Linked DNA regions of Homo sapiens: region 2 is linked to region 1. Evidence: fine-mapped expression QTL. A gene starts in region 1. The other region holds a variant in brackets. All regions are shown on one strand. Distances are between the middles of the regions. Region 1 holds the start of LINC01871 (long intergenic non-protein coding RNA 1871). Region 2 overlaps LOC100506274 (a long non-coding RNA gene).

Region 1 (15,296 bases):
ATCAAGTACTCTGTGCTTATCTTGTCTCTTACAGCCATTAAGCCACGTTAAGGGGTTTGAACTTGATCCTAAGAGTAATGAAGGATTCCTAGGCAAATGTTAATGGATGAGTGACCTTATCACATTTGCTTTTAAAACTATCTATTCATCAGAAAGATGGAGAATGGATTGGAGAGAGGCAAGCCTGGAGTCAGGGAAACCAGTGAAAAGAATATTGTGTGACTCCATGTGAAAGACTAGGTGTTTTAGGTAAGGAATCTGCTCTTTCCAAAAAGAAGTCTGACACTTGTCCTCAGGTCCTGGGAAGGAATCTCTAGGCTCTGGGAATATTGTGCCCAATAGGAGTGTTTCCGTTTGTTCGGGGGCCTTGGCTCACACCTGGAGGGTCTAACAATGTGATTTCAGGTGGGGGCTTTGGGTCATGAAGTCATCCCTCAAGGGACTAGAGACTGAGATCAATGAAAGGAGAGGCCAATTAGCTTCATGTGATTGAGTACAGTGAACACGCTGGACACCAAAGCTCAGGGGAGCTTCCCTGGATGGCAATGCTCTCTGCATGCTATCACACGTCTTACCTGAGAACTAAGGCTGCCCACCATCCACTGGAGGGCATGCCAGCGGCTCCATGTGTGGAACCCTGCTGGACTGACCCATGCACTGCTTCCTGTGGCTGACTTTCATCTGTGTTCGTTAGCTGTACTCAACTGTAACTAAAGGTATAACCACTTTCAGCGAGTTCTGTGAGTACTTGCAGTGAAGTACCAAAATGAAGAGTGGTCTTGGGAACTCCCAAACATGCAACTGGTGTTGAAGGTAGGGAAGCCTTAAGGGACTGTTCCTTAATTTTGCAGTTGGTGTCAGAGGTGAGGGCAGACTTGGGACTGTTCTCGCAAATTCCACAGGGGTCCAGATCAAAGGAGCGGAAGTGGGAATGGAGAGGAGCAGGGGACCCCAAGAGATACTGGTATTCAGAAGCTGCTACGGCAAGGTTGGTGGATGACTGGATAGGTAAAGGGGAGGCGGAGGAAGATTCCTCAAAAACATCATTTAGATTTCTGACTCGGCCACTAGTTGAGTGGTTTATGATACCCACTCAACTTGATTTATTTCTTCTAAGACATTTTACTCTTAATGCTTAGAACAGTCTGGGACATTTTAGATAAAAAACAAATGTTGAATGAAGAATAGTCTGAGGCAGTGGAAAAGATCTAATTGATTAATAAGAACAGGAAATGATAGTTAATTGACAGGGGAACATTAGTTGGAAGACAAACATTAGTTGGAAGACAAACCCCCACTCTTAAAATCCATCTAGGAGAGCAGACTGTAGATTGAACGGATGTTTTGAATTAAAAGAATGTCACCGTCTTTGCTGATTTGCCACATTTATAAAAAGGGGGTAAGGCAATTTCTAAATAAATAAACTCAATCTTTTGAAAGGCTAATTCCATCAAGCTACGGTGGTGAATATTGTCCCACTTCAACTTTGTATTATTGCTGTTCAAACAGTAGACATCTCTCCCTGACTCTCCCAACACCTGGGACCCCCAAGAGATGTCCTGCACAAAGCTTACTGTTTACGAGATCTCTTTGTGTTATGTTCCATTTAGACTGCTGACCACTTTTTCATTCATTCCTCGATTAGCATCATGTTAAATTTGTGAAATTCTATTTCTATTTATCATATTGCTCTCAAAAGGCTAAGCCTGAATGCTGGTGTACATTTTCTTGCTAATGTACATTTTTCTCATTTCTGTGTTTCTTTATTTTTAGTAGATTTGGAATACACAAAAGTCCCCCTGATTAAGCTTTTAGAATCACCATTGTCTCATTAGTAGTGCATGTATACATGATTATTCCATTGAAAACAATCAGGAAACTGGATACAATGTCCTTCCAGCTGCTACCTGAGAGGTCTTAATATTCAGTGTGTAATTGAGAACGACAACCACCACAATAATAGTAATACATGGCTTGTATAATTTTCTACTTTTTAAGAAGATTAAATATAATAGCATATGCTAAAGTACTGAGTAAAGTAGACAGTTCTATGTAACTATTATCCATACTTGTTTTCATTAGCTGAACTCTTGATAAATGTCAAAAATCTACTTTTCGCTGACACTGTTAAAATCCAATTTTCAGAACATTTCACTTTACAAAATAACTTCACAACTTTGATCCTCCGTATTCATAACAGTGATCTTGCCAGGTGGTTGTTATTACCAATTCCAGAAAGATAAACGAAACTACAGACAGCCCAAGTGGTTTGCATCAGGTGGCATAGCTAGTGGATGTCAGAGCTGTCCATGAAGTTAGACCCATCCACCTTTACAACACATGCTACTCCCTGAAGCCACATTCTTTTACATACGGGAGACATTCCTGAAGCAGAGAAATAGCACTTAGTTCTTTTCTGAAATGCTTTGCCCTCCCTTGAAAGGAGGGGCATAGTCCAGTTGTCCAAGTAGCTAGAGAATTAAGTAGAAATGATACTTTTGTTCTTTTTAAACGTTTCTGGCTTAGTTTTGATGTACCAGATACTGAGTAACAATAATATTTTTTTTCCTAGAAATAATAACTGCAAACATCATAGCAAGGCACCAGCATTTCTGCATCTCATTTAATTAGAAATGGAGAGACTGAAAGTAAAACTGGTAAGTCATATATGCAAGAGAGACAGATCGTCCACGGCAGCGCTGCATGCTGAACCCAGGCAGCTGACTCCAGAGCTCTGTTGCTCAGCTTCGGCCTTTGGTAGTGTGACTCCAGCTTTTCTTGTTTCTCTTTGGTCCAGACCTGACCACAGGAAAATAAATCCATAGCCAGTTTGAGATGTTAGATCACAGTTACTTTTGCATTTTCCAAATGTATTGAGAATGCCTACAACATGTCATATAGCAGTAACATTGTTTTGGTTACACAGATACTTCAGGGAGAACAATGCAATTTCGCTAAGTTTTCCACTGAAAGCAGTCACCTCTGTGTGGAGAAAATTCAGGAATCCCAAACCCAGGAATGATGTCTTGGTGGAAAACTGAAATGTTTGGAACTGGAAATTCAGAGTGGAAATGCCCTCCTAAATGAAGAGAGGCTGCTGTTACAATGGCATTAATTATTTAAAAACAAGCAACAGAAAATAAAAATGTCTCAGGAAAATTGCATTCATACATGACAGAGGAATGGTGCTGCCTTCTCATATGAAGTAGTCAGCAAGGGTTTGCATGTCAGTGAGAGTTTGCATGCTGGGAATAAGGCCACCACTAGATCTCAGGTCAGCCGAATGCCACAGCCAGTTTTATGCATTGTTCACTCCCATCTGAACAAATGCTTAGGGAAGGGGTGGGACAAAACTGGGCTTTTCAAGCAGACTGCTTTGGTTTGGAATTCTGTCTCTAGCGCTTGCTAACTATGGACCTAGGGGAGTTCCTTAACTTTAGTAAACCTCAACTTTCTCATCCTTTTAATTGGGATTAAATAACAGCCATGCCGCATGTTACACAGACACTTCCCACAACGTTTTGCTGCTTCTGTTTCCATGCTAAGCCCGCTGCACTGAGAGCTACTTGAGAAAAGTATCCAGGGTGTTGTTTCCTCCCTATTTTCCTAGTGCTTAGTGCATGGTAGGCATTTAATACAAGGTTGATACACGGGAATCATCTATCTTCTGCTTGGGGGACACAAATTCTAAAGGTCGGGTTGAATTTAATGGTAGAAAGGGAAGACAGGAAAACAGTGGCAAATGTTTGGATCCATGCAAAGTTAGCACACTCATTTCTGGCTTTAATTTATTTAAATGGGCCCTGAAATCATAGATGCTTTTCCATCTAATTTAGAGATACTGAAGGACATTCATTGAGCGAACAGTAAAACTCGCCTTCAGTGGGTCCGTGACTGTTAATACCAATCCTATGTAGTTAATGTTGTATTCTCCAAAATTGTATTTTCCATAGAGTAATTATGAGTCAGGCAAAAAGAAAAACTGTAAATTAATCAGGGTTTACACAGTAAACAATGCACCTAAAAAGAGTCTTAATGAGCGAAGCATTGTCCAAAGCAGCCTGCTTTTAAATATACATTTCTGAGTAGATATGACTTATGATGACTGCTCCTTTCTTAATTTCATTCAATTTGTTGGATGGGTGATAGGAGCACGCATATGAATGTACTGATATATCTTATAGGGCTGTATTCCGGCAGTGCCCTGGATTCGTATAATGTGCCTTTTCCCAGAAACAGAAGCATCTTTTCCTCTGTCAGGTTCTTTACCAATGGGGGCTCGGCTGGAAGGGCTTCATCCTTGAGGACACTGCTGCTCTCCTTCCCTATGGAGGATCACACAGTGTCCACGCACACATGAGCCACTGCCGTTAACTTTGACGAGAACCGCGTGCGGTTTGGGGGTGATTTAGCCTTTAAACAATTCCACTCTGGGTCCCTAAGAGTTTAGCTCTGCTTCCCTGATGTGCAGTTTCCTGAATTCAGGCCAGGAGGGCATCACCCATTTCTCAGTCATACACCAAATCGGGCTAACCATTTGACTACATGGTACACTTTAATGAAGTTTTCCCAAGTGCAAAAGGAATGTGCAATGGCCGCCCTTTTCCAGGCACTTTCATACATGACATCCGTACATGCATGAATGCACTGCGCCGAGAATCTGTTGGTTCTTTTGCATGTGTTGTCTCCAGTCCTCACCAGGCCCTTATGCAGTGGCTACTGTCATTATTGTGAAGAGGGCAAGCCCCAGATTGACTATCTAGAGGCATATCGCACTGCTGCCGTTTCCTCTGTCTGTGCCTTTCGGCAAGTCAATCCTTCCAAGCCTCAGTTTCCTTATCTGTAAAATGGAAAGTCTACTTCTTAGGTTGTTATCGGGATTGCCACCCCTAACATATTGTTGGCCAAGTGGGAAAAGCTCAATAAACACTGTCATTAATCTCATTGTGAATTAGACTGGGTTCAAAAAGGTTAAAACCAACAATAATAATTGCATCCCTTTCCCTATAGCTTTCATGTCTCTCCTAGACAAAGAATAAAGTTTTGTAAGTTTTCAGTCTTAAGCATAGAACTCATTTCTCCCGAGACTTCATTTTCATGGTAGGGTAGTACAGATTGAATATCCCTTATCAAAAGTGCTTGGGGCCAGAAGTGTTTTGGATTTTGAATTCTGTCAGATTTTGAAATATTTGCATTATGCTTACCCATCGAGCATCCCAAATCCAAAAATTTGAAACTTGAAATGCTCCAATAAGCATTCTCTTTGAGTGTCATGTAACTGCTCAAAAAATTCTGGATTTATGAACACTTCAGATTTTGGATTTTGGGGTTGTAATGCTTAATCCATAGTAGATAAAGGCACTTTGTCAGCTCCATCAGAGCAAGCTTCCTCAGAAGCACTACCTGGTGATCACTCTCATTCCTTCCCAAAGTTTCATTTCTCTCTCTCTCTCTCTGTCTCTGGAGACAGTGTCTTGCTCTGTCCCCCAGGCTGGAGTGCAGTGGCATGATCACAACTCACTATAGCCTCAACTTCTTGGGCTCAAGTGATCCTTTCTCTTCAGTCTCCTGTGTAGCTGGGACTATGGATGTGCACCACCATGCCTGGCTAATTTTTTTAAATTTTTATTTTAGCAGAGATAGGGGGTCACTATGATGTCCAGGCTGGTCCTGAACTCCTGGCCTCAAGCAATTCTCCCACCTTGGCCTCCCAAAGTTCCTGGATTACAAGTGTGAGCCCACCGTGCCTGGCCTTAAAGTTCAATCTTAACATGGGCCCTGGCCCTGTTCTACTTCTAAAGATCTCTTTTGAATTCTCAACCCCACCTTTATCATGGGCTTCTGTTCTGTCCTTCAGAAAAGCCCGCCAGAACCAAAGATGGAAGTTACTGAAGATGGTGAAGCTAGGGAACCCCAATAAGAGCTCCCATCTTATTTCTCATTGCTTGCTTACAAGCACACTATTCTCTAGCTTCTGACCTATGAAAAGTGCTTGGCACACATTTGTGCAACAAAACTGACTGTGCTAGCTCCAGGTGCAAAACTGCCCAGCAACCACTAGACACAGTTCCTGCCCCACTGTGCTCACCCCACCTGAACTAACCAAATTATTCTGGCATAACCATGTTAGAAAAGGACTCTTGGGGACTGCTACGGGACAGCCAAGGTGGCTCAGGGGTGCTAGACAATGTGCATCTCAACATGCTTCACAAATGATTGCTTATGTTTAATAGTACATGCTCACGTGCATGCTATAATGGCTATCATTTTACACATCGTAGCTCACTCTGCACAAATAACTCTAAGAGATTTTTCCTCTTGTTTCAGAGACATAGAGAGATTAAGGAACATGCCCAAGTGCAATATGGTTAGGGAGTGGTGAAGCTAGGCTGCAAATCTGGCTCTTTTTGGCCCTGCACTTTAGGCTTTAATTCTGCCAAGCCAAAATGCCAACACAAACTGTCACACTCCATCTACCATCTTTTTTTTTTTTTTTTTTTCTGAGACAGAGTCTCGCTCTGTCCTCCAGGCTGGAGTGTGATCTTGGCTCAGTGTAACCTCTGCCTCCCGGGTTCAAGCAATTCTCCTGCCTCAGCCTCCCGAGTAGCTGGGATTACAGGTGCCCACCACCATGCCTGGCTAACTTTTATATTTTTAGTAGAGACAGGGTTTCACCATGTTGGTCAGGCTGGTCTCGAACTCCTGACCTCGGGTGATCCACCCACTTCGGCCTCCAAAGTGCTGGGATTACAGGCATCAGCCACTGTTCTTGGCCCCATTTATCACCTTAGCTCTGAGACCGGCCTCCAAGAGGGGTTCCCTGTGGAGTAAGATGTGCACATTCTACTTATTCTCTCTTCTAGGTCAAGTGAGAAAATGTACTTGAAATCACTTTGTAAGCTATAAGGTACTCTATAGAGAGTACCTTATATATATACATGTATAAATGTACACATATCTATACACATAAGTACAACTATATTGCTCACAATTCACAAGAAATGTGTGATTCATGTTAAATATTCAACATGTCGAATGTATTGGGGTTGTCTATCTTGATATAGATACTTGTTCACAAGCTATTAGTATGCCCTATTGACATTTCATACAAATAAACACAATACACACACACACACACACACACACCCATGTTGCTCTTCCCTCTTGGGAATGTTTGCTCAAGAGGCTGAGGCTGAAGTTGGCCTCCTGCTATGTCTGAGAGCAGCCCTTGCATAGGTGTGAGTGTGCACAGGAATTTATTTTCTAACCAAGGGAGAAATTGACAAAGTGAATAGAAAAACCACAAAAGCAGCTAAGTTAGATTTGGGTTCAAAAAAAGAATGCAGACAGAAAAGGAAGACTGTGAGGGGAGAGTTGATAGGTGGTTTAAGGAATGTCTGGCGAGAGGCAAGGAATAGAGTAAAGAAGAGAAAAAGTAATAAAAATAACTGCAACACTCACCTCTGAGAACAAATGACTGTAGTTGCTGCATGCTTAACGTCCCCATCTTATGAAGCACCACACATCAGCAGAAATGAGATACACAGCAGGGAGGTGTTAGAAATCTGGTTTTGCAGATGATTTTGTCAAATCACCTACAGCTTTGCTCAAACCAGTTCCAAAGGCTTTAACCACATGGTTTGCTTGTGTGCACCTATTTCCTGAGTTGCTCTAAATTGCATGACTTGGGGTGTAATGGCAATTCTTTGGGTTTTTGTGGCTCCATTTCTATGAGACACATGATTAGAAATCCTGTTTGCTTTTTGCTTGTCAAGCCTTAATCAGCTACCACGCTGGGCTTGTGTGAGGGCCCTGATAATCAGCCTGCTTTATGGAGAAGGCAGAGTGGAAACAGGACAGGAGACTTCCCATGGCACGGATACAGAAACGCAGCTTTCTTCGGGTTCTCCTTAAACTCGGAAAGTATCTCTTGTCTGAAAAATTTAAGTCACAATCTCTAATTAATTAGCTAACTAGCTCCCCCTCTTGAAACGTCTTTCAGATAAAAACTGCATAATGCTGCAAAGCAATGGCCTAAAATCAGACTAATCTACGTCTACGGCAGTCCTTAGGATCCATTGTGTCAGAAAAATACATAGAAATGTCTTAAAATCTGCCCAAACACAAAAACTGTAACTGTGCTATTACTTTCGTTGGGTTTATACCTTTCAAATCATCTTTTTTCCTTAAAGGTATTTTGACACAGCTTAAAAAAGAAAGGCACCAAAAGCCTTAGCCTGTACAGCGAGCTATAAAATTGCTGCGAGCTTAAACAGTCAAGGTAGGAAAAATGGCAAAAGTTATGTCCCCAACAAATAAGCTTGTGCTTTTGTCATAAATGAAGACTCTTAAAATGTGATGCCACCCCATGACTTATTTTGTATTATCTTATTTTTGTTTTGCTCCAGTCATTCTCTCCCTTTATCTTACATCAAAAACAAGAAAAGTTTTGCCTATGTCTACAACTTAAGTGAGGAACCTATTATGTGATTATGATATAAAATTCAGAGCCAGTGATAGGCCGTCGTGTGGTGTAAACATTTCAGAGGATAAGAATAATAGCAAAGAACTAAATTGAAATGTAATCCGTGCTGAGATACTGTAACAAAGTCTCGTAATCTCTTTAAGCCAGCTGTTCTCAACTTTGGCTGCCTATTTGAATCTTGCAGAGATCTTAAATCCTTCTTGATGCCTGGGTCTCACCCTCCAGGGATTCCGATTTCATTTGTCTAGGTTGTGACCTAGTGTCATGGGTTTTAACAGCTCCCCAGGTGATTCAAATATGTGGCCACGATTGAGAGCCCTCTTGTCAGCTGACTGTACTGTATACACGGATCTCTGACAGTAAAGGTCATCACCTGGTTCCCTGATTTGTTCTGGTCTTATTTGTGTGCCAATGGCTCTTTCTTGGACTTCAGAGTTTTATCTGCACAGATGATTCTGATACTGCTTCTGGGACTGCTGACCCAGTGTGGGCACTTGGTCATGACAGCTTTTTGACCCTATGCTGGTCTACAGGTGGCTAGGGCCCCTGTAACAAAGTATGAAGACTGGGTGGCTAAACAGTAGAAATGTATTGTCTCATAGTTCTGGAGGCTGGAAGCCCGAGATCGAAATGTCTGCGGAGTTGGTTCCCTCTGTGGCCTCTCTCTTGCTTGCAGGCAGTTCCTTTGCCCTGTTTCCCTACATGGTCTTCCCCCTGGCGTGTCTGTGTTCTAATCTCCTTTTATAAACACACAGGTGAGATTGGATTAGGCCCACCCATATGACCAAATTTTAATTCAGCAACCTCTTTGAAGGCCCTGTCTCCACAGGCACATTTTGAGATATTGGATGTTAGGGTTTCAACATATGAACGTGGGGGTACAGAATTCAGCCCTTAACAGCCAAGAGGATGTCTGCACTAGCAACATGCATGCCTTTGTCATAGCTCTGCTCCAACTATGAGTTGGGAAAATGTCAGAGATAATCGGAGTGCACAAACTATTCTCAACCATCTTCCTGGGCTTGCTTTATCAGTCAAAGTAGCAGCCACTGGGGTATCCATTCCCAGGCAAACTCTCCTGTATGGCTGAATCAGCCAGCAGGCTTAACCTGTGGAATGGCCTGGAAAACTCACCTTCCATCTCAAGGATTCTGTAAAATGTCTGGGTGCCCTTTTCCAGGGCTTCGGGAAGTGGGAAGCCCCAACCCCACCGCTCCCAGCAGGTGCAGCAGGAGCTCTTTTCCTCAGCTGCTGGTGTTTCAAGGTGGCTCAAACACCTGACCACCCAGCTGATCTCAGTGACACTGTGTGCCATCAGAGGCTACAGGTCTGTTGGAAAGAACATGTTGATTCCTCCTATTAGTAGGAGATTAGTTCTTACATTTGGTGGTTCAATCTCTGGACTTTTAGTTTCTTCTTGGTTTTCCCTAAGTTTGACTCTCAAAATCTCCTTGGTTTGGACTTATTCTTCCAGTTGGATACACTTCCACGTTCATTCCTGTAAAGGAAGATGTAGTTAGATTCATTTGCAAACAGAGCTTCTCTAACTCCTTCTGCACTCTCAGGTTCTTCACCCATTTCACCTTCACCCCTTGCCAAACTGGCTTAGCCTAGCTTAGCGCTTGGATTGTTTAGCATTGTATTGGGTTCCAGGTATTTCTGGAAGTGTCGATTGAGTCCTCTAATTAGTCAGTGCTTCAGAATGTCTATGATTTTTCAAGTCCTCTTTTTTGGCTTCACACTGTTAAAAATTACACTTAGTATCAAGGTTAAAATACAGATGATAGTAGTGCATTTTTTGAGTTCCCTGAGAGCATGTAGCATGTAGCTGTCAGTTTCCGGCATCTAGTGCATGCCATAGTCCTCGCTTCTAGGGGTCGCTTTCCAAAGTTTCAGTTACCCTTGGTTAACTGTGGTCTAAAATAGTCCATGGAAAATTTCAGAAATAAACAATTCAGAAATTTACATTGCTCGCTGTCCTGCGTCATGTGAGTGAAATCTCACCTGGGAAGTGAATCAGCCTCTGTCCAGCGGATCCACGCTATCCATGCTCCCCACTCATGACTCACTGAGCAGCAACCTCAGAGATCAGATCGACTATGGTGGTGCCACCATGCTTGTGTTCAGATCACCCTGATTTTACTGCATAATGGTCCTGGAGCGCAAGAGTAGTAATGCTGGCAACGTCGATGTACTAAACAGAAGCCATAGAGTGCTGCCTTTAAGTGAAAAGAGGAAAGTTCTCGGCTTCAGGAAAGAAAAAAAATTGTGTGCTGAGGCTGCTAAGATTCAGTCTTCTACTCAAGAAATTGTGAAGAAAAAAAGAAATTCATGCTAGTTTTGCTGTCACACCTCAAACTGCAAAAGTTACAGCTGCGGTGCGTGTTAAGTGCTTAGTTAAAATGAAAAAGGCTCTACATTTGTGGATAGAAGACATGAACCGAAACATGTTCCACTTGATGGCAATAGGGTCAGTACTGCCTGTGGTTTCAGCCACCTACAGGGTGTCTTAGAATGTATCCCCTGTAATTAAGGAAAGACTACTGTACTAATTAAAAACCCAGTGATTCGAATTGAGACAGACTTATTGAATTAAACCTATCATTTTCTGTCAAAACTGATAGGGACCCAAGACTATTTACACTTGGAGGTGGATAAAATCCAGAGAAGAGACGTGAGTGGTCTGAGGCCATACAGTGAGCTAAGGTCAGAGCCAGGATTAGCTCTATGTTGATTAATGTGTCCCATGCTTCCAACTCATGAGCATTTTGCCTTAGGAAGATGGCAAAACTGGATAGTATTTCATGGCCTTGAGTTTAGCATACTTCTATGTAGCACTTAATTTTTGAAAATAAAGAGTCGTATGGATGTTTGAATTTTTAAACACGCAGTCCTTCAGAGGAAACCATGCAGCTTGCAGACTGTGGGGAGAAGATGGTCTGTAATAAAAGAGCTGGCCTGAGCCTCCCGATGGCCAGCTCCTCTCAACTCGTAACAACCATCTGGATTGTCTGTGTGGAGACCAGATTGCCTGTTATGTCCACCAAATGAGTTGCCTTGCCCTAGAAAAACAAAATTCAAACATCTATCAAAGAAACCTGTCATCTCCCTGTCTTCCTCTGCAGAAATCAGCTTCCTTCTCACTTCCACTGGAGGCCCAGTAAGAGAGTTCATCTCTGCAAATCCGTAGGGTGACAGCTGCCAGGGGGGACTTCTGGACCAGAATCTGACGGGTAAGAGAAGACTCCCGATGAGAAAGTCAAAAGGAGGCGTTCAGCGTGGGTTTTCTCTGGCACTGTTGTCAGTAGTTTAAGAAAACAATCCCTACATATAGGTTGGGTAAAATCCTCTTTTCCTCGTCCCCTTTGCTGAATAGAAGGTGGAAATTTGGGACATTTTGTCTGCAGAGTTCTGTGCTCTGCAACTCCCTCTCTTTTGTTTCTCAGAATAAGGGAATCACTAAAAGGTTAAAACTCTCTCCCTAAAAAAAAAGAAAAAGAAAAAAGAAAAGAAAGAAAGAAAAAAAAGAAAAAGGAAAGTAGAGTTGGTTTGATTCGGCATTTAATTAGGGCTTTTTGTCTCCGTTTTACATTAGTGGGTCTTCTCCTGCTTAAGCACATGGTTGTTCTGATTTTCAAGTTTCTTCTTAAGTTGCTTTAATTTTGCTGTGAATTGTTTTGTGAGGCCAGCTCCAAGGAATGAGCAAATGCCTTCCTGGCATGGAGCTTTGCTATCAGCAGAAAAAACAACACAAATATTTTCCCAAGTAAAATGGCAGCCATTTAACAAATCAATTGTAGCAATTGTACATGACAGGCCTGAGAATTTTATACCTGTTCATAAAATATCTATTTCAAGAGCCCACAGCAGAATACATTTTGCAAACTGCTATACAAAGGAAACATCCACCAAATCATTTTATTTCTTGTAAATTTTTTTGTTAATTTTTAATTGTGATAGTACATATCACACTGATTGCCACACCAAGAGGGGGCATATAATAGAATAATCTGTTAAAAGAACATTCAAAAATCCCTATAGCCTACAGGATTTACCTTGAAATGTACTTTGCAGGTAGACTGTGGTGAAGGCATGCCGTTTTATTGAAACAGCAGAATATTTGTGGATAGTTCAGATACAATTTTCTCACGAGGCTCAAGAATCTAACTTACTTAATATAAAAAACCCTTATTATTCTGCTTTCTTACTCAAAGATTTCAGAGATATACTCAAGGTCTCTCTATGAAGAGAATAAAAGCTTATTTGCAAAAGAAATGTTAAGTTCCAAAACCTTGTTGATATGGTTTGGCTTTGTGTCCCCATCCAAATCCCATTTCAAATTGTAATCCCCAGGTATTGAGGGAGGGACCTGGTGGGAGGTGATTGGATCATAGAGGTGATTTCCCCATGCTATTCTCCTGACAGCAAGGGAGTTCTCATGAGATCTGGTTGTTTGATAAATGTCTGGGACTTACCCCTTCTCTCTCTCTTGCCTGCTGCCACATGAGACTTGCCTGAATCTCTTCCACCATGATCGTGAAGAAGGTGCCTTGCTTTCCCTTCACCTTCCATCATGATTGTAAGTTTCCTGAGGCCTCCCCAGCCATGTGGAACTGTGAGTCAATTAAACCTCTTTTCTTCATAAATTACCCAGTTTCAGACAGCACTTTATAGCAGTTTGAAAATGGACTAATATCCTTGCTTGCATATGAAGCATCATGCTAGACCAAGGGGCGTGGGGAGTAAAAACAGGAAGATGCTGACTGTTATTGAGGAAACACTAAGTACACGTGTGTACATCTATAATTATACACACATACACAGTAGCAGTCACAAGACCAGGACACACACACATATTTGTGTACATATATAACTATACACACATCCACAGTAGCAGTCACAATACTAGTGTTACCAGTGGAGAATGTCCAGGTTCTTGGTGTCTTGAACAAAGAATTGAACAAAATGCACAAACAAAGCAAGAAAAGAAGGAAGCAACAAAGGCAGAGGTTTGTTGAAAACAAAAGTACACTCCACAGGGTGGGAGTGGGTATGAGCATAGGGGCTCAACAGCCCTGTTATAGAATGTTCTGGGGTTTAAAAACCCTCTAGAGGTTTCCATTGGTTACTTGATAGAAATGAAGAGAATGAAGTCAAGTTACAAAGCCATTTACTTGGTGTACACCCTATGTAAATGCAGAGGATATTTCCTGTCATAGCTGAAGTGTTTCCATTTGATTTAGTTCTTGAAAGTCCTTAGGTTCCCTGCCTCCAGGTCTTGTTCTCCTGCCTCACTAGGCCATACACATATGTGCATAAATATGTAAATATACATATACATTTAATGAATTCAAGTTACACACAGTTACTCACAGGTTTGCTTGTGCTTTCACAAACTAACAAAGATTGCTCAGCTGGACTCAGTGCCTCACACCTGTAATCCCAGCACTTTTGGAGGTTGTGGTGAGAAGACCACTTGAGGCCAGGAGTTTGAGACCAGCCTGGGCAACATAGTGAGAACCCTGTCTCTACAGAAAATAAAAACAAAACAAAACAAAAGACTGCTCTATGTCTGCAATAACTTTTCCCATATGCACAAATCTTCCCCACTGCTTTTTGGTGAATTCCTTTTCTATCTTAAAATTGTTGGCCAAATAGCACTTCTTTTAGAAAGTCTTCCCAACTGTGCTCTTCCATCACCATCTGATTGACGGCTATTTCGTTTGCACTCCGTTAATTGCTGGAGCATTCCTTCTTGAAATTTTATTATGGCACGTCCATGATCACACTTGAGTTAAACCATGAAAGTACATCTCTGAGGAGTCTCATTTTATATCTCCCAATCCCTTCCCATCAGAAGCTAACAGGATGGGAAGAGACGTGCCTGCATCATCAAGGAGTTCAGGCAGCTGCAGAAGAAAAAGCAGGTCTAAAGAGGGCGGTGTCCCAACAGGTGCTGGCGAGGATGTGGAGAAATAGGAACATTTTACACTGTTGGTGGGACTGTAAACTAGTTCAACCATTGTGGAAGTCAGTGTGGCGATTCCTCGGGATCTAGAACTAGAAATACCATTTGACCCAGCCATCCCATTACTGGGTATATACCCAAAGGACTATAAATCATGCTGCTATGAAGACACATGCACACGTATGTTTATTTCGGCACTACTCACAATAGCAAAGACTTGTAACCAACCCAAATGTCCAACAATGATAGACTGGATTAAGAAAATGTGGCACATATACACCATGGAATACTATGTAGCCATAAAAAAGGATGAGTTCATGTCCTTTGTAGGGACATGGATGAAGCTGGAAACCATCATTCTCAGCAAACTATCGCAAGGACAAAAAACCAAATACCTTATGTTCTCACTCATAGGTGGGATTTGAACAATGAGAGCACTTGGACACAGGAAGGGGAACATCACACCCCGGGGCCTGTTGTGGGGTGGTGGGAGGGGGAGGGATAGCATTAGGAGATATACCTAATGTAAATGATGAGTTAATGGGTGCAGCACACCAACATGGCACATGTATATATATGTAACAAACCTGCAAGTTGTGCACAGGTACCCTAGAACTTAAAGTGTAATAAATATATATATATATAAAATAAAAAAATAAAAAAATAAAGACGGCGGTTTCCACTGGGCTAGAGTTGCACAGTCCTGGGAGATGAGATTGGGAAGTTGTATAAAGACAACTGGAAAATGTATTTGAATATAAAGCTAAGAATATCTTTTTTGGATGTAGTATAGTTTAGTTAATAAAAGCATAAATTTTAGAGCTAGATTGTGATAGACAATCC
Region 2 (15,296 bases), 280 kb after region 1:
TGAAACCTCATCTCTACAAAAAAATACAAAAATTAGACGGGTGTGATGGTGAATACCTGTAATCCCAGCTCCTCGGGTGGCTGAAGCACGAGAATCGCTTGAACCCAGGAGGCAGAGGTTGCAGTGAGCCAAGATCATGCCAGGCACTCCAGCCTGGGTGACAGAGCCAAACTGTCGCAAACAAAAAAATTCAGTAAAATTTTGAATTATTATCTTACCCAACTGACATAAAACTCATCTAGTAACAAATGTGTTATTTTTAATGTAAAAGAAAAATTGAAAATTATTATTATAGGTTGTATCAAAACAGGAATACGATGTATGTAAAATGCCTTCCAGGTTAATGTATCTGTCAGAGAGTCTGTTGCATGAATAAACAGAAAGTTAACAAAACAAGACTGTTCAAAACTAGCTAATAAAAAATCATGTTATTTTCTTTTAAAATGTAAACCTAAATTTATAGATAATGATATTGCTTGGCTTACAGTATAAGCTGAGTAAAAAGGTCAAACTGAGAGACAAGTTATGAACTGCACAGTTTGTAGATTCCTCTCCATCCCTGATTCTGTTACTCTGTTTGAGCTCTCACCAATTCTTGCCTGGACGCTGGAAATGGCCTTTACAGGGGTCTCATACCTCTGCGCTCAGCCATTCAAAGGCAACACAGACAGCGAATCCATTCACGTGGCTGATCTAAAATGCAATTCTGATCACTGCTCAATCGCAGCAGTGGTGCGTCGAGACTTGCTGAAACGACATGCTCTTTTCCAGGGCCCTGAGATCCTTCAGAATCTGCGTCTCCCGCGTCCCTGACACATTTCTTGCTCCTGCCTGTGCCTAGCATGCATGTCATGTCACAACAGGGACGTGCTTGGAGCTGTCCACACTCCATGCGTCCTCTACTTTTTATTTCACTCAAAGACTCTCCAGCTGGAATGCGCTTCGCCTGCCTGCCTCTCAGCCTCGGTCACAACCTCACAAAGCTCCCTGCCCTTCCCTACCAGGCAGGTTAACCACTCTCCTCGGATATCACCCGGAGAGTGTCATGTGGCTCTCCCCTTGTTTCCACATTACTTTACACTTTACAACTCTCTGGCCTCCTGTCCTTGAGGGCGGGGATTAAAATTCCACGTTTTAAAACTCTTTGGCCAGTGCGTGGTGTCTGGTCATAATTTTTAAAAAATGGTTTGAATAAACAAAGCAGTGATACACAATGAATGAGTGAGCTGGCTACACACAGGTGCTAGAACTTTTTCACCTGTCTTTATTTATTTCCAAATGATATGAGTCTGTTAAGATGCACCTCAGGTTGTCTATGCTCCCCAAGACTTTCTTAGACTCTCTTGGTCCATAGACGTGTAGCCCTTCTTTTCTGAATTGAGTTCCCACTTCGAGACTAGGCCACTTCAGCATCTTTCTGCAGAGCCAACTCGTACTTTCGGAATTGTATGAGCCAGTTCTTAAATGAGTGGGAGCTTAAAATTAGCCATGGTAAGAATATTGACACCATGGAAATTGGCAAACCCTACAAATGAGGGGTTTCGTTGTTGTTTTCGGAGAGCCAGCTGTGAAAGCTACAGTCACAGCACTCTGCATTTGTGTGTGTGTGTGCGTGTACACGCAGACATCTATAATTTTACTTTGTGTGTATTTTCTTACCCTAACAATATTGTAAGTCCTACATGACAGGGAGCCTATATTTTCTGTTTATATAAATAAAAATTATGTATTTACTTATTTATAGAACCTATCTCATCTACTCTGAAAATGTGTTGTTTGGATAAAATATGGACTTCAGAAATCTAAATGTCAAATAAAAACAAAAATAATGTGAGAGGAAGAGAAAAGCCATATAATGAACATCCAGATTCAGATAACTACTGTGACTAAGGATTAAACATTTGCTCTGAGCTTCATAGCAGCCAAAAGAAAAACTGGCATTTTTCATTTTACTTTATTATCTGTTACTAAACAGTGACTAAAAGGATAATGTACATTGACATTGAACAAAAGCATAATAAAAAGTGATTTTTAATTATGTCCTGGCCATGTATGCCATTTTATATATTAATTTTACTCAGTTTCACAACCACAGAGATAATTCTTATTATCGTTTTTGGACAAAGAAGGCACGGAAGTTTGCACGGGTAAGTGCCTAGTCAAGTTCATGCACAGCTAGTCAAAGAGGAAGTACCCATGGGCATGGGATCCAAGACAGTGATCCGTTGTTCCCAGCCATGTTATACTACCTTTCTTGGTTACAACGGAGATGCCTATCATGAAACTGTATAAAACAGACAGATATGTATTCTATATGGTAATTATTTACAAAAATATTCCAAAAAAATGTAGCCATCATGAGTTTCAGAGGTAACTCAGGGATGATAGTTTACTGAGGCTCACTAATAAGGTCTGTGTGTTATCCAAGGGTTTAGCCTAATAAGAAGACAGGATTTCGAAGCTCTGGACACAGGCATCCATGGGTCACATCTGACACTAACTTCCTCAAATGCTAATTGCTCAGCTGGCTTTCAACACTTAATGAGAGACACAGTTCAAAGTTAAAACTCAGATTGCTACTTGAAGGTCAGTCCATAAGTTTGGGTTAAAGAACAAAACAAAAATTGTTTATGTACGGGTGGAATTTACTCATAGTAAGACGTTTCCGGTGTGATGAATGATTTGAACGATTTGTTTCAAGCATATTACTACTTATCTGTGTAACATAAATAGTGGGATGTCCCAGGCTTCCAGCCTCAGGACTTTGTGCTGGCTCCTCAGAGCTACTGCCCATGTGAGTAACAGACACCTGCATGCAGTTACCTAGAAGCAGATATCCACATGCAGCTGCCCACATGCTAATGTCCACAAGCAGATACCCACATGCAGATACCCACACGCAGATGCCCACATGCAGATACCCACATGCAGATACCCACATGCAGATACCCACATGCAGAATGCAGATGCCCACATGCAGATGCCCACATGCAGATGCCCACATGCAGATATGCACATGCAGCTGCCCACATGCTAATGTCCACATGCAGATACCCATGTGCAGAATGCAGATGCCCACATGCAGATACCCACATGCAGATGCCCACATGCAGAATGAAGATATCCACATGTAGCTGTCCATATGCAAATGCCTACATGCAGATACCCACGTGCAGATGCCCACATACAGACACCTACACACAGATGCCGACATGCAGATACCTACATGCAGATACCGACGTGCAGATGCCCACATACAGACACCTACACACAGATGCCAACATGCAGATACCTACATGCAGATACCCACATGCAGAATACAGATGCCCACATGCAGATGCCCACACACGGATACCCACGTGCAGATACCCACATGCAGATACACACATGCAGATACCCACATGCAGATACACACTCGCAGATGCCCACACGCAGATGCCCCCATACAGAAACCTACATACAGAAACCTACACACAGAAACCTACATGCAGTCAACATGAACACTAATTTCCTCCTGTTTATCTGGCCCTAAACAAGATGCGGCGCAAACCAGATTCAGTCTCTGTTCTTTAGGACTCAAGTTTCATCAGAGAGAAAGAGAACCACAAAAATACAAATGGCAGTGTCATTTCTAAGGGCTCTGGAAGGGACATATTCAGGATTCTATGCCAGCACATGGTGGGAAGGGCCTGACTTTCGTGGGGATGGAGGAAGGGCAGTGTTGTAAGGGGATCATGGAAAGCGCTGGTGAGATTTCAGTGACAATGAATCCAAAGACTAACTTGTACATGTTTAGCATTTTTCTGGATATACTTATTCTTCTCATGATTGTAAGAATGTGAACTGGATAAAGCAATTTGCACAACAGTAAACCTAATTCGTATGATAAAAAATAAAAAGTGATGTGTGAGTTAAAAACCTGCAAATAAAGAGTGGGCACTCTGTATAGATTATTGGATCCCAGAAGCATTCAGTGGGAACTTCCTGGAGGAGATAGTATTTCAATCGGGTCTAAAGAACAGAAAAAAACCCAGATCGGAACATCCATGAAATACAAAATTCAAGGTAATGTTTTGCCCTAAAATAGGCTGGAAACATGAATAAGCTTGATGAATAAATGTGGAAAGATAAATAAATGTGGAAAGATGAATAAATGTGGAATTAAGAAATAAACAACAATGCAAAGGCTGGTGATGGGGATAATAAGCACAATGTTTCCAAAATGTTCTATGCTAAGGATGTCAAGAATACCTGTTGGCTGGCCACACACCTTGAAGTCAGTAAGTCATGTGCACTTTGTGGTTTATACTCTCTGTTACCAACACCAAATCTCCTGTCTCCAGTATTCAGTGATAGAAATTCTTTTTCTTCTTAAGAATCCCATGTATCTTATTATTATGTACATAGAGTTATTTGGCAACTGGTTGCTTCCTCTGAAACTTCTGAGCTCAAGGATTATGCTGGAGCAGCCTCAGAGCCCAGCACAGTGCCTGGCCTGTAGCAGGCACTTGGTCGATTTTGTGTTTTGAATGCTTTAGACTGTTTCTTGTTAAGTTTGTTAAAATTTACAAAATTACTTGCAGACACTCTTCACCCCACTTGGGCATCCTTAATGAGCCACTCTGGATGATAGAATGTGGCCCAGAACCACACATGGATGCTATTTGACTGAATTAAGTGAGCGTAGGAGAGAAGCCCCTTGTACAAGGAGTGATGGGACCAGCTGGCTCACGACGGCAAGTGCAAGCCGTCCATGAAGAACTCCCTTGAGTGACAAACACTCTCTTCTCTCCTGCTTGTCACAGCAGGTGTGGAGAGACCTGACATGGCAGAGCCATGGGTTCTGCCTCCAGAGGTTGTAGGAGAAGGGGGACTGCTGCTGTTTTTGGAGCACAGACCATAAATTACTCACTGATTGAGAGCACGTGGCTCCTCCTTCCCAAGTCTTTCTTCCACGTCACTCACACCTGGATGCCACCATGCCCGGATGCACTCTCCATGCACTTTTCTTGCCCCCCTTGCTCCTGGAATTTGCCAGGATGTGTAGGCATCAGGCCTGCCTTTAGGCATCCTGAGTAGAGCCACGGAAGACCTAAATTAGCTGGGATGGGTCCATTTGACAATCACCCAGGCCAAACTGACACTTGCAATCTGAGTCACTGCATTTTAACTGTTTATTAAGTGGTGACAGTGACAGCTAGATAGTTTAGAGGAAGGGCCCCTTCCCAGTGTGTTCCGGGAGTGCACTGCTCTAGAGAGAAGGCAGAGGCATGATAGCATGGGCGGTGCTGACGGTGGAGGGGCTGCTGTTATTGTAGACCACAGGATGAACACACAACTGAATCTCTCTGCTCTTTTGTCTTGTGGAAAAATGGTTTGTTAGAAGTCACTCTAAAAAGTAGCCCTCTCCTCTGTATCCCTAGCTTTGGGCAGCTTTTCGTGAGTGTTGTTTTGGGGAGCATGGAGAGCTCATTTGGCAGTAGGAAAACGCCTTCCTGAATTTGACAGGTACCATGTTTCCATTGAAAAGCCACAACGTGCGTGGCCCTGACACCTCAGAAAAGAGGACAGGCTTCGATAGGAATCTGATCTGCTTTGAAGAGGCCAGGAAGCCTTTCCTGCTTACCAGGAAATGCCCACATTCTGAGCATACCATCTTTCCGCCTGGCTCGTTGATTAGCTGCAATATGGGTCTGGTATACATTTTACAAGTGAGATGCATTGATGGGTGGGGTTAAGTATCCCTGGCCAGGAAAGAATGAGAACACACAGCAGTGGACTCTCTAGGGTGGCCACTTCGTTGGGGGCAGCACTGACAAACACAGGAGGACACAAGCGCAAAGATGGGCTTGGCTTTTTCTCACAATTTTGCCTCAAGTCAGACTTGTTTGCCTCCTAGGAACTGTTTGCTAGAATAAGAGTGTGAATGTCAGGAAAATACATGTGCCCCCACACACTTCTGTAGAGCACATATGTTGCCAGCTACAGTAAACAAAAGTGCCTTATGCAAGCAGGACTAATGCAAGAAAAAAAAAAAGGCTGGGGCAAGTGTGGAAGGATTTAGACTCGAGTCCTGAATTCAAGACCCAAGTCCTTCACTTTGTGCCCTGTGATTATCCTGGATACAAATCTCTTGGCTCATCTGGGCCTAAGTTTTGTTTTGTTTAATTTCATGCATAAAATGAGGAGACTGATAACAATCCCTACCTTGGAGGATGGTTTTAAAGATCAAGGAGCTAATGCAGGGGATCTCAACCTCAATGCTACTGACACTTTGAGCTGAATAGTTGCTGTGGAGGTGTGCCTGGGCATGGCAGGGGTCCCTGGCCTTTCCCCACCAGACGCTAATAGAACTCCCTCCTTCCCTAGTTATAGCAGCCAAAGATGTCTCCAGACTTCGCCAAATGTCCCCTGGAAGAGCAAAATTGGCCCCAGTTGAAAACCACTGATTAAATGTATATACAATTATTTGAAAGAGGAGAGAACTCTCTACACATTTGTTAGGCATGGAGATAGAAATAACAATGAGGAGGTGACAACATTTACATATTCTAAGTGGGTATAGTGGAAGTCGGGCATAAACTGATGCCCAATGTCAAGTTGATGGGGTAGGAAATCAGATTAATTCAGCCTGATATATTATGGCTTGATACTACTGTGAAAATGCCATATTTAATTAAACAAATTCTGTTTCTTTCTTCCTAGTAAAGGGGAAGGGAAAAAAGAAAATGAGTAACACATTAAATTGCAGGATATTAATTATACAGAGCTACATATTAACTGTTATGCATCCTAAGGAGCTAATTTTCTTCACACTGTTATTATTATTTGTTACTTGTATAGCACCGTTGATGTAAACAGACTGTTTTAGAAATACGCCCATAAAGTTCACTGCTGTTCCGTGAGTGTGCTGTATAATTACGCATTTACCTTCTAGTAAGCAAGTGAGAAGCACAGCTCACTCACGGCAAAAACCCATTGCAGTCGCGTTGATCTGACTTTCTAAAAATCTCTGAGTAGCAGCTACAACATGTTGTGCTGGAAACAGAATTGATATCATCTGAATAAACAAGAGTCTTGAGAAGAAATCTATTTTTGTTATATATATTTTTTTACATTAAAGAAAAGGGCCAGTCTTTCTCAGAAAGAGTTTCACACCGGGGGTATTTTTCAGAGGAGGGGTATTTTTTGGTTTTCTGTTTTCTCTTCTGTGGGGCTGATCCATCCCTGTCAAGTCTGCAAAGTGTGTTGTGCGTGGGTGGAAAGGCAAACCACACAGAACATGCTCTTTGCCATAGTCAGGTCACCTTCAATACCACATGACGAGTTTCTTAAGAAGGGAAAAAAAATGCAACAAAAAGAAAACACACAGACACAAATGATTGAAAAACCAATATGAATTATATGCCAAAAGGTGGCTTCACATTTTCAGCTCAGATCACCAATGTCAGCAAAACCCTTTCCCACCGTGTGTCAGCCGTGGACAGGTGGAAGATGGAGGGCGGCATGCAGGCCTCTCTGTCATGGAGCAGCTGGGCTGGTGCTGATGAAATCACCATTGATCCACCCCGTAGTATGGACTGTAGATGATTTCTAGCTTAGACACATTTGTAGGCAATCTTTTGGGGAATGGAGTGTAATCACTGTATTGGTCAAAAATATTCACACTTCCTGTTTTTTGTTTTTTGTTTTCTTTTTATTCTGCACATGGCTTGGAGCAATGAACACCTAAGATTCCGGATACATTTCTTTAAAAAGGATATATTGCTTGTATGGCTCAAACAGAACTCCTCATAACAAACAATCTTTCAGTTTCATGAGTAAGGTTGTGGTCCTCAACTTTGACAAGAATGGCAGCCTCACTACTTATTTATCAAAGAAAATGGCTCCAAAATGGAAACTACACATCTCTTGGGCTCCAGAGTCCAGGATGTTATGTAGCTGGTGAACTTCTCAGGCAGATAAACTTATAAGGCTTGAAAAATCTGTTGACTGGTTCCCTTGCAAATTCCAAGAAGTAGATGTATACAGTGATGGGTATTTATCTTTAGGGAAAAAATGAAGATTGAAAATAAGAAAAAAACAATATTTGAATAAATAA[A/G]TTCTCATCACACAAATTTTTTTAAAATATCTGTCTTTTCTCCTCACCAAAGATGATGGTTATGGGTGTTTTAGCCTGGAGAAAAACAAAAAAATCTTTGTCCAAATACATATAAACCTATAAAAGTATGTTTAAATTTCTCTACATATTAAGGATTTTACCTAGTTCTCCAATTAACAATTAGATGATTTTATACATTTTTCAATTCAATCTATTTGTCAGATGTGCTGTATTCTTAACAGGAATGCTCAGTAATTCTCCACCAAGGAGGAAGTCAGATGTGGGGAGGGGTGTGGAGCTGCCATGAGAGAGCAGGTGTTTCTCTCCCCCTCCCCTTAGATGGTGAGGGAGGAGAACCACTGACACAGGAGAAGTCCTGGGGTGCTGTGATCATTGTTATTCTCTAAGGCAGACATTTCACTCAGAGATGAGACTTCAAGGGTGAATTTCCAACACTTGGAACAAATACTTCATGAATTTACCAAAAGCCTGATTACCTCAGATGTAAGTTGAGATGATTTAACACACAGTATTTCAAGAAGTTTATTTTTAGGAAGATAATGGAAAACAAAGTTTATCCAAGCACTATGAGACAATAACTTAGGTGAGACATAGAAACGCATTCCAATACAGCAAATTTAAATAGAAAGGAAGGCGAGTGCCTAGCTGGTAGTTTTATGCCTCATTCTGTGAAAGCAGAGATAAAAGTCAGGTTACATGGGAGCCATGTGAAGCTTTCTTTGCTGCGCACTCCTGCCCTTACCTGTGAGCACACGGTATGTGTGTGAGTGCTCTGTCCCAGGCCTGATTCTTACCCTTTGGGGCTCGTGATGCAGCCAGCTCTCCGTGAAGTCCATCTCACATCTCAGTACCCAAGGCCTCTTTAGAAAATAAAATTTATGTAGGAAATAAACTGTGCTTTTATGTTGTTACAAAACAATAGAAGCGGGACCTTCACCTGCCTTCCCTGTTCTCAGCAGTTTGAGATGACATGTGGGTGCTCACTGTCACCTCTTAGAATCACATGTTACGCCTTTTCCAGGATAGTCCCCAGTGAAAACCTCCCAGACTGTGGAGGGAGCATTTGAGAGCACCACGAGGGCGATGAGACTCAGGTAACGGCAGGGACTAAGGTGAAGGCTCCTAGGGAGGAGACCCAGCAGGGGTGCCTGATCCAGACTGGGGGATCTGGAGTACAGGGTTTTGTCATGAAGAAAGCAATTTTAATCAGGAAACAGCTAGCTTGGTGAGAGTGAATTGGGGAGGCAGAGAGTTCTGGGCAGATAGAACTGTAGGTGATAGATTCGGAAGCCAGAGACCCTGGAACATTCTAGGAGCTTGAAAAATTTCTGTGTGGGTCCAGTTAGAGTAAGGGGTGGTCGCGAGGTGGGACCCAGCATGCTTAGGCGGGGAGATGCTGTTAATGGAAGGCTCTATTAATGATGGGTAGGGCCAGAGGATTATGAAGGAGTCAATACTAACTTCTAAGGACCTTGCAATACCCACGCAAATTTGCATTTTATTCCTGGGGGGATTCCTGTAGAGAAAAGAAAGATCGGCCTGGCACGGTGGCTCACGCCTGTAATCCCAACACTTTGGGAGGCTGAGGGGGGCGGATCAGGAAGTTAGGAGATCGAAGCCATCCTGGCTGACACAGTGAAACTCCGTCTCCACTAAAAAAAATATACAAAAAATTAGCCGGGTGTGGTGGCGGGCGCCTGTAGTCCCAGCTACTCTGGAGGCAGAAGCAGGAGAATGGCGAGAATCTGGGAGGTGGAGCTTGCAGTGAGCCGAGATCGCGTCACTGCACACCAGCCTGGGGGACAGAACGAGACCCTGTCTCAGTAAATAAATAAATACATAAATATAAAAATAAATAAAGAAAAAAAAGAGGAAAGATCCAGGAGACAAAAAATGGAATCCTGTCCGATGAAGGGTACCTTTGCCTCAACAGTGAGCCCTGGGCAGGTAGTTTGTCCCATGACTTCTCTTTAGAGGCCCGGATGCTGTTTTATGCTGGGCAGACAAATAGGTTTAATGGAGAGATTTTAATTAATAAACCTAAAAAATGAAAAGACAACATTAAAAAGAAGAAAAATGCTTGGTGGTTTCTGATTTAGGTCTAGAGAGGGCATTAATACATCACTACGATTTTTTTTCTTTTTAGCCTTATACATATTTTTCCTTTTAAAATCTAACTATGTGTCTAAAGTTAGCAGGGAATTATAAAAAGAGAAAAAAAGTCATTCTTCATTCTCTCAGTCTAATTCAACAAATGCTTAGGAGTTAATGAATTTTCTTCAAACCTTTTCCCCTTAGGAGTGAGTGTCTTACCACATTTGTATTCATATTATATACACAGTTTAAACCCAGTTTTTCATATAACATTATGTCATAGACATTTTTCTTATTATTGGAGTCCATAGCCATCATTTTAAGTAAAAAGATAATAATTCATCAAGAAAGTACACTATATCATATCTATTCTCCTATTCTTAAGTTATGATCACCTTTTTGCTACATAAAGGATCTATTTTTGTGGGTCTTCCCAAGAGTTTTGAATTATGCCTTTGGGAATTGATTCCAAGACCTGTAATTTCCATTGAATGTGTATCAATGTACTTATATGTCTTTTTCTTCATATTACCAAAATGTTTTCCAAATGGATTATACCAATCTACACTCAGACTATCTGCTCCAGAGAAAAATAGCCTTCTGGGGAACTTGTGGGGACTTCTCATCCACACTCCATGCTCTACGTTGTATCATCCTTCTTGGCTGTGAAGAGAAGTCTGAGCAAGGCAAATGCTATGGAAGCCCACCAGATGGACACATATATGAATAGAGTTTGCTTCTGGCCACATTTTCACCTTTAGGAATTGTCAGGATGCAGTTCTCTATGGTGTCTCTGCATCTCAGACTACATTTATCTAGCAGCATTAGAAGCTAGTGTCTCCCTTAAGGGCAAAGGGCAGACTTGTTTTGTGATCAAGATAATAAGGATAGTGTCTCCTTCAGAAACAAAGTTTGGGCAGGTTTGCTAGCAGCCCCATTAAGGTTAGGGGTTTGGCACCCCATGTTCCTCAGCTGTGATGCAGACCCCATTGTACATGGCAATCACCTGGGCCTACCTTGGGGACATATGGAACCGATGCAACAAGAAGCTCATGCTGCCTGTTGTGCTGTGACTAATAGGCTGTCTAGATCCATTCCCCACCCATGGAATCTACAGAAGGGTGGCTAGCCAGCCCAGAAGCTGCAGTGGCTGCTGCTCCTGAGGGATTCCTTAACCATGAGACGACAGGTTGTGAAAGTATGGACCGACAATATCTGGGCAGAAGAGGCTGCAACCAAGGGCAGAAATGTGCCTGGCTTCTGGTACAAACTACAGCACCTATTATTTATTGTGTTAATTTTCTGAGGGCCTATGTAGCAACTACTCCTGTTTGCTTGTAGAAGACCTGAGATCCAGGAGTCAGATACACTCAGATGCAACTGCCGGTTTCAGTGCTTACTCCTTCCATGACCCTGAGCATGGTACTCTCTATGCCTCAGTTCCCATGTATGAAACAGAAATTGTAAGAGAATCTCACAAATTTGTTTAATGAGATGATATAGTGAAGTGCATGGCATTGTGAACTGGCTCATAGCATATACTGAAAATATGTTACCTAGTACTTCTTTGCTGCTTGATTATAAGATTTGAACAGCTTTTCATTCTCCAAAGACCAGATAATTTGGTATACAGAAAAATCTTAATTGGTAATCAAACCCAGCCTTATAGTTTTACTGATTGAAAAAAGGAACGCAGTGACTTGCCTTCTGCTAAAATGGACACCAAGTTAGTACTGGGCAGTATTAGCATACATACCTCCTCAGTATCAGCTCAACTCCCTCTCTACTGGAACTTCAATTCACCATGTAGTAATCGAGACAGAGTGAAGTGTTCTGTAGATAGGAAGTAAAGAGAGACAAGATGGAATTAAGTTTAAAAACACATAGAGAAGCTAGGGATTGCCACAGGACCACTCTTAAAACTAGACAGACAGAGGCTGGGTGCGGTGGCTCACACCTGTAATCCTAGCACTTTGGGAAGCAAAGGCGGGCAGATCACTTGAGGTCAGGGGCTCGAGACCAGCCTTGCCGACATGGAGAAGCCCCTTCTCTACTAAAAATACAAAAAATAGCCAGGTGTGGTGGCATGCACCTGTAGTCCCCACTACTTGGGAGGCTGAGGAAGGAGAATCACTTGAACCTAGGGGGCAGAGGTTGCAGTGAGCTGAGATCGAGCCACTGCACTCCAGCCTGGGTGACAGACAGACGGAGACTCTGTCTTAAAAAAAATAAAAATAGACAGGAAGCAATTTGAAGTATTATTGAGATAATATTTCTGATAGAAAACAAAGGCTTCAAATTCTATGGACTAAGAGTAAAATAGCTTATTTAGAAAGGTGGTTCTCAGGTTCTCATTCTGAGACAATTCACTTTTGCTATTACAAGTAAAACTAAATTTGAATGTTGCCTACTAAAATCACATAACATGAAAAGTTGCAATAGGATAGAAGACATACACAAAAGCAGAAACATGTTATTAAAAGAAGATATGCAAACTCAAAAGTAAAATAGCATAAATTCATAAATGTTGAGTAGAACACATCTCAAAACTGTCTGTACCCACAGTTGCATTGTTGTACAAGTCATAGAATATTTCCTAAGCTAATGATTAGGAAAGCCTTATGCAAGCTATAAATCCATCAAAACATGTAAATTAATATAATTAATAATGTAAAGTAATATGATTAATATTATAAATAATACTGCGTAAGCATTTTCTTAGGCTAGAATATGCTCTGGTAATAACACCTATGTCTTAGAAGGTTGATGCAATAATGGTTTGCATTTCTTAGTCATGAAAATTCCACTGCAGTTCTTGGCAATTTTTCAGGGTAGCCCTCCACGTAGTAATTCAATGATTCTTATCGCTCTGATCTAGTGCATCTACCACTTCAATGTGAGACATCCTTGATCACCATGACAGGGGAAGACAGCTTGAAGTTTGCAGCCGATCTTGCATATGTTGGCCCCAAATAAGCATACTTTGCTTACATCCACAGCCTAGGGCCACAGCTAACTAGTCAAGAAGAGTGGGAAATAGGACAGACAAACTGAGTGCTTGGGGGATCCCCATTCTCATGAATAAAATTGTTAAATTATTGTCTGTGGATGATTTTTTTTCTAAGAAAGCACCTAACTGCGCAATGAATTTGGAAAGAGATTCGTGCAAACATTCCTTAAAATTCAGATGAAAAGTGGTGCTTGGTGTGATAAAGGCTTAATTACCAACAAAATTCAAATCTCCAAAACACGTCATTTCATAGAATTAATAAGCAAGGTTTTTACTCTGTTGTGAAAGTTAGTGTGGTTTTAAAAGTGAGGGCTTATAAACTGGTTAAATAAAACATTCTTCTATCAAAACGCTATACAAACCCTAAGAATAATGCAATAGAGCTGTATGGGCTGATATGGTAAAAGCAATGCACAGCAAAATGTGGGAAGAGTGTGATTCCATTTCTGTGCATGCATTCCTGTGTACACACATGCATGGTTGGTCTTCATTTTCCAGGATCTCTTGCAGCCAGGTGTGTCCATGTAACAGAGTTCTAGCCCATAAACTATGAGCAAAATAGCTGTATACTGTTTTACAGATTCCAGCTTGGCCCGTAAGCTCTGCTCTAGCCATCTTCCACGAGTTTCTCTTCTACCTGGGCTTCTACTCAATATGAAAAAAGCTGGGCCAGGCACAGTGGCTCATGCCTGGAATCCCAGCACTTTGGGAGGCCAAGGAGGATCACAAGTTCAGGAGATCGAGACCATCCTGGCTAACATGGTGAAACCCCATCTCTACTAAAAATACAAAAATTAGCTGGACATGGTGGTATGTGCCTGTGGTCCCAGAGGCTGAGGCAGAAGAATCGCATGAACCCGCGAGGCGAAGGTTGCAGTGAGCAGAGATCGCACCACTGCACTCCAGCCTGGGCAACAGAGTGAGACTCTGTCTCAAGAAAAAAAAATAGGAAGAAAAGAAAAGAAAAGAAAAGAAAAGAAAAGAAAAGAAAAGAAAAAAACTGAACCTTGCATCCCTGCTTGGAAGAGGGATGCCCACCAACAGGAACACCTCTTTTATACTTTATGTGAGTAAGAAATTAAGCTCTAGTACCCTTCAGCCTTTATGCATATTAAAGTTTCCCTGTTCTACAGCTATCTTACTTGGACTAAAAGAAATTAAAGTCTGTAGTTGCTCCATGAGGGAGTGAGATGGAGGATAGTGGTGGCACTAAGTGCCCTTAAATTGTTGAATTAAGATCTTCAAAAATCAAAGATTAAAAAGGAAATAAAACAAAACACTGATCGTGTTATACACTTGCTTATTTGCACTTATCTCTTTCTGCTAAATATTTAATATTGAAGAGAAAACAAAAGAAATCATTTAGTTGACAAGCACGTGTGTCAATTATATAACCAATATTTTAACTTAAGCACTTGGAGCCTCAGCTTCACCACTTGAAAGCAAGGTCTTTTAGCTTAGTGACAACTACAGTATCTTTCATAAAATGTCTTTAATTACAGGTTTCGCATAGGCATGTGGGTGAATGATCATCAAACTCACAGTCAAACACAGGCATCTTGAGAAAGGAAAAGTTCAGTGCTGATAAACAATATTACTTGAAACAAGGAGAGGTGAAAATGTTAGCTTCCTTTAACTTAGAGACATAGGGCAATAAAAAAATACCATTTTGGGGTTTTGAAAGAGTGTGTTTGTGTGTGTGTTTTTGTGTGTGTGTGAAATACACATAAAACAGAGACTCTAATGATTACAAAAAAAAAGAAAACTAGAGTATATAAAAACAAACAATGAATGTGAAATGTTTCTTAAAATGCTAATTAAAAAGAAGGAAAAGCAGCTGCCTGACCACAGCATAATGGTGTAAACACACACACACACACACAACTTGTAAAATTCCATACTTTCATTCTCTCTGGTGAATTATATCTGATTTAGAACTCCAAAATTATTCTTATTGTAACAATCTCCTTTGTTTATCATTGCCTATTGAGAAAACTTTTGTCACTTTCAACAAACCAATAAATCCCACTGATGCTGCTGAACCACAACAAGCTGTATTGAAAGTTTGGC

The links. PIP is the estimated chance that this variant, and not a neighbour inherited with it, causes the effect.
Region 2: its variant is the best candidate, but not a certain one, in a credible set for the expression of LINC01871 in whole blood (INTERVAL, PIP 0.85).

The regions. Positions count from the first base shown.
Region 1 is chr2:7,718,019-7,733,314 of GRCh38, reverse strand. It overlaps LINC01871 (long intergenic non-protein coding RNA 1871), which reads right to left and starts at 7,536. Exons shown (of 2, transcript NR_183384.1): 1 at 7,462-7,536; 2 at 2,594-2,799.
Region 2 is chr2:7,442,633-7,457,928 of GRCh38, reverse strand. It overlaps LOC100506274 (a long non-coding RNA gene), which reads right to left. Exons shown (of 6, transcript NR_038432.1): 5 at 11,973-12,049; 6 at 7,675-8,045. Among named protein-coding and RNA genes, the nearest start is that of LINC01871, 280 kb to the left of the region's middle. RefSeq lists a silencer at 30-222. The variant A/G (reference allele first, on the strand shown) is at 8,102.